Linked DNA regions of Homo sapiens. The protein of the gene in region 1 purifies or fractionates together with the protein of each later gene. This does not show direct contact. Each region holds a gene or a part of one and is shown in the gene's direction. Other genes may lie near its edges.

Region 1 (3,824 bases):
GGACCTGAGTCACAGCACTGCCACTCATCACTAGATACCCTGGAGCAGCTTCCACAGGTGAACCTCCATTTCTTGGCTGTATAATGGGAGTAAAATAATATTTACCCCATAAGGTGACTATACGAATTACATGGCTCCCTGTGTATAAAACATTGAGAGTAATGCCTGCTTCATGGTAAATATTCAAGGGCTCAGCAATCATTATTTTCTGCATATAAGCTGCACTTCTAACTTTTAAAACAAAGAGTTCAGTCCCGTTGTGTCAAATGGAACCATTCTTTCTCGTTAAGGTGGCATGTATCTTTTGGAATGGTATATCCACATTCAAGTGTTACATCTTGGCTGTGCTAATAGGAGCTGGAGCCTGTCCCATATTTTTCCCTCCCCGTTTCCTTTGGGGTTAAAATAAAATGATTGAAGTTGGTTGTACACTGCCATTGAATTCAAGAACTTTCATAAGAAGTGTATAACATCAGCTGTGAATGCTGAAAAGCTTTTCAAGCCACAGTCACAATATGCCTGCCCTCTTAGCAGATGCTGGTAGCGGTAGTCTAGCACAACTGGTACTGTCCCTCACAGAGCTTAGGCTTCTGGGGAGTATTGTACCATGAACACCACTGTCCCAGAAAGTGCCCGGGCCACTAAGAATCACAAACCCTACTGTCCTCGCCAGTGCTGTGCGTCTTTCTTTAGGAGGCCCTGAGACAGTTTATTTAACACAGCTGCTACTGTCTTCTGATATTTGCATTTGTTCAGCGAGTTGTTGAACCACCCAGTTATTACTACCCCAGTAGTTGCTACCAAACTTTCATAGCAACAAAGGGTATTGTTTTGGTTAGTGTAATATACCAGTTCTTCTGCATGAATGTCATTGAATATATTTACGTATATATAAAATATATGCCATATGGTAAATTAGCTAGGGCTGAGAAGTTTGCTCCCTTGAAATATAGTTTCATTGGCAAGTTATAAGCAGCAAGCAGGAGCATTTAAAAGTTTATTTAACAAATACTTATATTCACTATGTGTCAGGGTTTGTTCTAAGTACTTAAAACTGTTACTCATTTACTCCTAAAATTCACTTTAAGGATCCTACTTGAAACACAGGGGGGTTAAGTCACGTACTTAAGGCCACACAGGTGGTAAATAGTTGAATTAGATTTTGAAAGCAGGCAGCTTGACTGCAGAGTCTAATCACTGCACTGTTGCTTGTGGAATCTAGCATGTTTCTCACAGTTTGGGCCCTATTTGTGTCTTTGTGTATGCAATTTTGCCAAAGAAAAAAATTGCACCTGTTCAAACATATGATCAACTCCTTGGTTTACCATGTGGAGGATTACAACTAGATTATATATTTCAATATTGCTATTGAAAGACATTGATAGACTGGGTACTGTGGCTCATGCCTGTAGTCCCAGCACTTTGGGAGGCCAAGGCGGGTGGATAGCTTGAGTCCAGGAGTTTGAGACCAGCCCAGGCAACATGATGCAACCCCTCCTCTACAAAAAACACAAAAATTAGCCAGGTGTAGTGGTGCACACCTGAAGTCCCAGCTATTTGGGAGGCAGATGTGGGAGGTTTGCTTTATCCTGGGAGGCTGAGGCTGCAGTGAGCCAAGATTGCACCACAGCACTCCAGCCTGGGCGACAGAGTGAGATCCTTTCTCAAAAAAGAAAAAAGACGTTGATACTAATTTTCACTATAGTGTTATCAAGCATTTCCCTGTAAAAGCTTCTGAGTGCATGGTCGACCCTGGTGATGATCCGGGAAGGAAGCATGCATTCTCCCATCCCCCACTCAGCACACTCAGCTGAGCAAGACTAGCAGCAATCTCAGGCCTCCTGTCCTAACAGCATTCTTTTTATTTTTTTAGCTTTAGGGTTTTCATTTGTTGTAAATTAAAATAGTTAAAAATCTTTATCGGAGGAGAGTAGCTTGTACACTTGAGGTTGCTTTGTTTTCTAATTACTGTTGGAGATGGTAGTAAGCAGAATAATGGCTCCCCAAAGATGTTCACATCCTAATTCCCAGAACCTATGAATCTGTTGTGTTACACAGCTTGAACATTCCTAGTCTGAAAATCCAAAATGCTCCAAAATCTGAAACTTTTTGAGTGCCAATGTGACACCATAAATGAAAAATTCCACACCTAACGTCACATGATGGGTCGTAGTTAAAACAGTCAAAACTTTGTTTCATGCACAAAATTATTTAGAACATACAAAATTACCTTCAATCTGCATATAAGATGTATATGAAAAGTAATGACAATATTCCAAAATTCAAAAAAAAATCCAAAAGACTTCTGGTCCCAAGCATTTCAGATAAGGGATTCTCACTCATCCTGCACGGAAGGGGGAATTCAGGTTGCAGATGGAGTTAAGGGTGCTGACCAGCTGATGTTGACATTAAGATTATCCTGGGTCATCTGGGTGAGCCCAGTGTAATCACAAGGACCTTCTGAGTGGAAAAGGGAAGCAGAAGAGTCACAGCAGGAGAGTTGACATTATTGGAAAAACTCAAACATCCATTGCTGGCTTTGAAAATGGAAGGAGGCCACAAGCCAAGGAATGCACACAGTCTCCAGAATCTGGAGGAGGCAAGGGAATGAGCTCTCCCGTGGAGCCTCCAGAAAGGAGCACAGTCCTCCTGACACTGTGATGTTTAGCTCAGAGAGATCCATTTTGGACTTCTGACCTCCAGAACTGTAGGAGAAAAAAATCTGTGTTCTTTTAAGCCTCTAACTTTGTGGTAGAGCAGCAGTAGAAACAAATACAGAGCAATCTGTGTTTTGATTTGTTCCTTATGCCAGTCCTAGCAGAGGGCTGCCTGATCTCATGATTTATTACAGACACATTAAGTATAGCAAGGTTTACATTTTGACGGCTGTTTTATTTTATATGTAAAATTAACCACTTTGTGGGAGGGAGAGTTAACTTTTGATAATTCTGTGTATTTCTATACCTAACAATTATTTAAAATGACAGTACCAAGGTTTCCAGGAAAAAAGTGTCTTAGTAATTCTGGAGCAGGTAGAGCCACTTGAATCTTTTTTGTCAGAGTTGCCTAACAGGAATGTGGCTCTGCATCCTATGTAGTTGTGTCATACCTTTGCATTTGTTTAGGGTGAAATGATAGTCCCAGCATGGTGATACTGGGATGGTGGAGATTATCACTTAATTTTTACTCCAGGTTCCTTTTCATTTTTAAAGATCTGGTATTTTCTCATTTGCCTAGCAATGTTATTATGAAATCCCAGAGAACAACAGCTGTAAACAAAAGGTGACATCATTCATTGGGTCATCTATTGTAAGTATGTAAAGGGCTATAGGCTCTTAGAGTAGACAATATCTCAGAATCACAGTGTCAACTTCTGAAATTAAAAGAACAAGAGGCTGGGCCCAGTTGCTCATGCCTGTAATCCCAGTGCTTTGGGAGGCCAAGGTGGGAGGATCACTTAAGGCCAGGAGTTTGAGACCAGTCTGGGCAACATAGCCAGGCCTCCATCCCTATCCCGTGCAAAATTAGCCAGGTGTAGTGGCACACACATGTAGTCCCAGCTACTCAGGAAGCTGAGGCAGGTGAATCTCTTGAGCCCAGGATTTAGAGGTTGCAGTGAGCTATGATCATGCCACTGTACTCCAGCCTGGGCAACAGACCCCATCTCTAAAAATAAAATGAATAAGAATTATAATAATAGATGGGGTTTTTTTTTTAAGGAACCCTGTGATAACAATCCTATATTCAGTTAAAGGTCTTCTCTTTGTACAATGTAGCAATAGCACTAGTGTAAGAAATAAAATCTTGGGAATTTTCTTGTGTCT
Region 2 (3,824 bases), on another chromosome or scaffold:
GGCCAGGCTGGTCTCAAACTCCTGACCTCATGATCTGCCCACCTTGGCCTCCCAAAGTGCTGGGATTACAGGTGTGAGCCACTGTGCCGGGCCTATTTATCTAAATTTTAATAACTGCATATACTTCCAACAGGTAGATAGGAAATAATTTACTTATTTCTTGTTGAAAATTTAGATTTTTTTCCATTGTTTCATTGTAAGTAATACTGTGATGAACATGTGTGGAACTATGATTCTTTCTAGGGATAGCCAAGGAAAAGCATCTCAGTAGCAATCTGGAAACACCTGCAAAACCTTTTTTTTTTTTTTTTTTTTTTTTGAGATGGAGTCTTGCTTTGTCACCCAGGTTGGAGTATAGTGGTATAGCGGCGCCATCTTGGCTCACTGCAACCTCCGCCTCCTGGGTTCAAGCAATTCTCCTGCCTCAGCCTCCCCAGTAGCTGGGACTACAGGCTCACACACCACCATGCCCAGCTAATTTTTGTATTTTTAGTAGAGACTGGGTTTCAACATTTTGGCCAGGCTGGTCTTGAACTCCTGACCTCAAGTGATCCACCTGTCTGCCTCCCAAAGTGCTGGGATTATATGCATGAGCCACTGCACCTGGCCTCAAGCTCCATTCTTTTTTTTTTTTTTTTTTTTGAGATAGAGTTTCACTCTTATTGTCCAGGCTGGAGTGCAGTGCCGCAATCTCAGCTCACTGCAACCTCTGCCTCCCAGGTTCAAGTGAGTCTCCTGCCTCAGCCTCCCAAGTAGCTGGGATTACAGGCGCCTGCTGCCATGCCCAGCTAATTTTGTGTATTCTCAGTAGAGTTGGGGTTTCACCACGTTGGCCAGGCTGGTCTCGAGCTCCTGACCTCAGGTGATCCACCTGCCTTAGCCTCCCAAAGTGCTGGGTTTACATGTGTGAGCCACTGTGTGACCTCAAGCCCCATTCTTAACTTTGCTGTTAGTTAAGATAGCAAAAAAATTTTTTTAAAAAAGATTCTCTGGGGAGAACTACTTTAGGGTCTATGGCGGTGGTTCTTTTTTGTAATACAATAAATCTGAATGAATTTTGTTTTGAAAGCTGTTATCTGTAAATTGTTATTTAAAATTCATTATTTTAACTATAATTGTCTTGACTACACTTTTATTAATACCTTAAGATTTTAATATGTTAAATATCTTTTCCCCTTTTTAGGTATGGCTGATGGCAAGCATTGTACTTTTCCACATCTGCCTGGCAAAACCTTTGTCTATAATGCTTCTGAAGATAGACTGGAATTGTGTGTGGATGCTGCAGGACATTTCCCCATTGGTCCTGATGTTGAAGATTTAGTTAAAGAGGCTGTAAGTCAGGTTCGAGCAGAGGCTACTACAAGAAGTAGGGAATCAAGTCCCTCACATGGGCTATTAAAACTAGGTAGTGGTGGAGTAGTGAAAAAGAAATCTGAGCAACTTCATAACGTAACTGCCTTTCAGGGAAAAGGGCATTCTTTAGGAACTGCATCTGGTAACCCACACCTTGATCCAAGAGCTAGGGAAACTTCAGTTGTAAGAAAGCATAATACAGGGACAGACTTTAGTAATAGTTCCACTAAAACAGAGCCTTCTGTATTCACAGCTTCTTCTAGTAATAGTGAGCTTATTCGAATAGCTCCTGGAGTAGTAACAATGAGAGACGGCAGGCAGCTTGATCCTGATTTGGTTGAGGCCCAGCGAAAAAAATTGCAGGAAATGGTTTCTTCTATTCAGGCTTCAATGGACAGGCACCTTCGGGATCAAAGTACAGAGCAGTCACCATCTGATCTTCCTCAAAGGAAAACAGAAGTTGTGAGTTCTTCTGCAAAGTCTGGGAGTCTTCAGACTGGTTTGCCTGAATCTTTTCCTTTAACTGGTGGTACTGAAAATTTGAATACAGAAACAACTGATGGCTGTGTAGCAGATGCACTGGGAGCAGCCTTTGCCACAAGGTCAAAAGCACAAAGGGGAAATTCCGTGGAGGAGCTTGAAGAGATGGATAGTCAAGATGCTGAGATGACTAACACAACTGAGCCAATGGATCACTCTTGATTTAATTAGAGGCTAATAAAGGCAGAATGTTTATTGTGAATATGTAATATTTGTTGGCTGGGCCACGTAACTTGATTAGTCATTAAAAATCTTGTACGTATATAATTCAAAGATTATATCTTGTTATTCAGTGCATGATAGCAAGTGTGTGATTGGCCATAGCTTTTAATATACTGCTGCCCAGGCTGGCTCTGAATTTCTATAAATTAGCTGTTAGATCTGCTGAGATGACTTTCTTCCATATATGTGGTTCATTGGAAGTTCTTTGTAATTTTAATTCCATGAAAGTCTTAATGTTTCCAACATGAAAATTCTCTTACTTAAATACGTTTGATTTCTGAAAAGCCTACAAATGGAGGGGAAATGAGATTGTGCTAATGTTGATGTCATCAAGGTAACCATCTCATATACTAGTGTCAAAAGGTTTATGTAAACTTGAATTTTATCTGAACTAAATTGTATCTTAAAATTCATACAATTATTTATTAGACAGTGGAATGCAAATGTTTCTATGAACGTAAACACATTCATAGAGATTTCTTGGCGAAAATATCTTGAGAATAGAATGTAACGATATAACATTTTGCTGATTTGTGCAAGATTGGGGAAAAATTTCTTCTAGATTGATGAGGTCAATGTGATTCAGTTGTGTTGCTGTCTGAGCCACAGCCAATTGTGTGTGCTCTATTAATATGTTACCATTATTTTTGATTCCTGGCTTGGTCAAGAACAACCTGATTTTTTTTTTTTTAATCTTGCAGAAAAGTTGATTGCAAAGTGTGGTAGAAAAAGAAATAATGGTAGCAGTAGAGAATTTATAAATAAGAGTTTATCTTTATGAATGAGTTAATTGTTCTACAATTTTGATCAGTGGTATTTAAGCCTGTATATGCTAAGTGTATTTATGCCCCTTTGAGCCAAAATTTTTTTTTTTTTTTCAGAATCCATAAGAGTTTATTTGTTGGCTTCACTTGGGTTTAGATGCAAATTTTACTGCATCACACCCTGATCAGCTGGGTATTTGCTTAGTGTATTCATCAAATCTTCAGTGCCAGTTTCCTTGAGAAGCAGCTTTCATGCTTATTCCTTAAAAACAACAGAAGAGTGTTTATCCTGAGATTGGTATTGCACTATTTTATTTTATTCTGCAAATCTGTATCCTGAAGTGTACATTTCAACCCATATTCTTCTCTGTTCACTGAAATTAAGTTGAATTTGAATGGCTGAAAGACAAAATATATGTTAATACAATCTCTTACCTAGAGCATTCAAAGCCTGGCTGTCTCTGTTTGCACATGTAACAGATGCAGAACTGTGTTTGTAATTCTAAGAAAATGTATGTCAGAAAGTATTTTATCAGATGTTTAAAAATCTCTGCCTGTTGATTCATAAGGGATATAGACAGTACTTTAACTTGTGTTTCCAGATAAGGCAGATTTTGGTCATCTTTCTGTGAAAGTATCTCTAACTGAATCCACTTCTTAAACAAACTACTCTATTTTAAATAAGGAAAGAATGGAGAATCTAGACATTTTACAGGTGTATCTGAGCAAAATATATATTTGGGTTAGTTTTTATCACATTATCACGTTTGTCTTTATATTTTATCTTCATCCTAAATTTTCTCCCTATCAAAACAGCAGGAAATTTTTAAACTTTTATATTGTACACTATTTTTGCATAAAATAAGAGCTGTAGCTACCAAATACTATTTACTACTTAGTAAAGGTGGCTTCTGTGTATTAAACTACGAATTACAAATATCACTT

The links.
Region 2: the proteins of SGMS2 (region 1) and VCPIP1 purify together in Homo sapiens (co-immunoprecipitation; one large-scale study listed by IntAct). This does not show direct contact.

Annotation. Positions count from the first base shown.
Region 1 is NC_000004.12:107,831,362-107,835,185, forward strand, and holds part of SGMS2 (phosphatidylcholine:ceramide cholinephosphotransferase 2), read left to right. Parts: intron 1-3,824. UniProt on the Homo sapiens protein: Sphingomyelin synthase that primarily contributes to sphingomyelin synthesis and homeostasis at the plasma membrane.
Region 2 is NC_000008.11:66,632,732-66,636,555, reverse strand, and holds part of VCPIP1 (deubiquitinating protein VCPIP1), read left to right. Parts: intron 1-1,183; coding exon 1,184-2,055; 3' UTR 2,056-3,824. UniProt on the Homo sapiens protein: Deubiquitinating enzyme involved in DNA repair and reassembly of the Golgi apparatus and the endoplasmic reticulum following mitosis. Necessary for VCP-mediated reassembly of Golgi stacks after mitosis.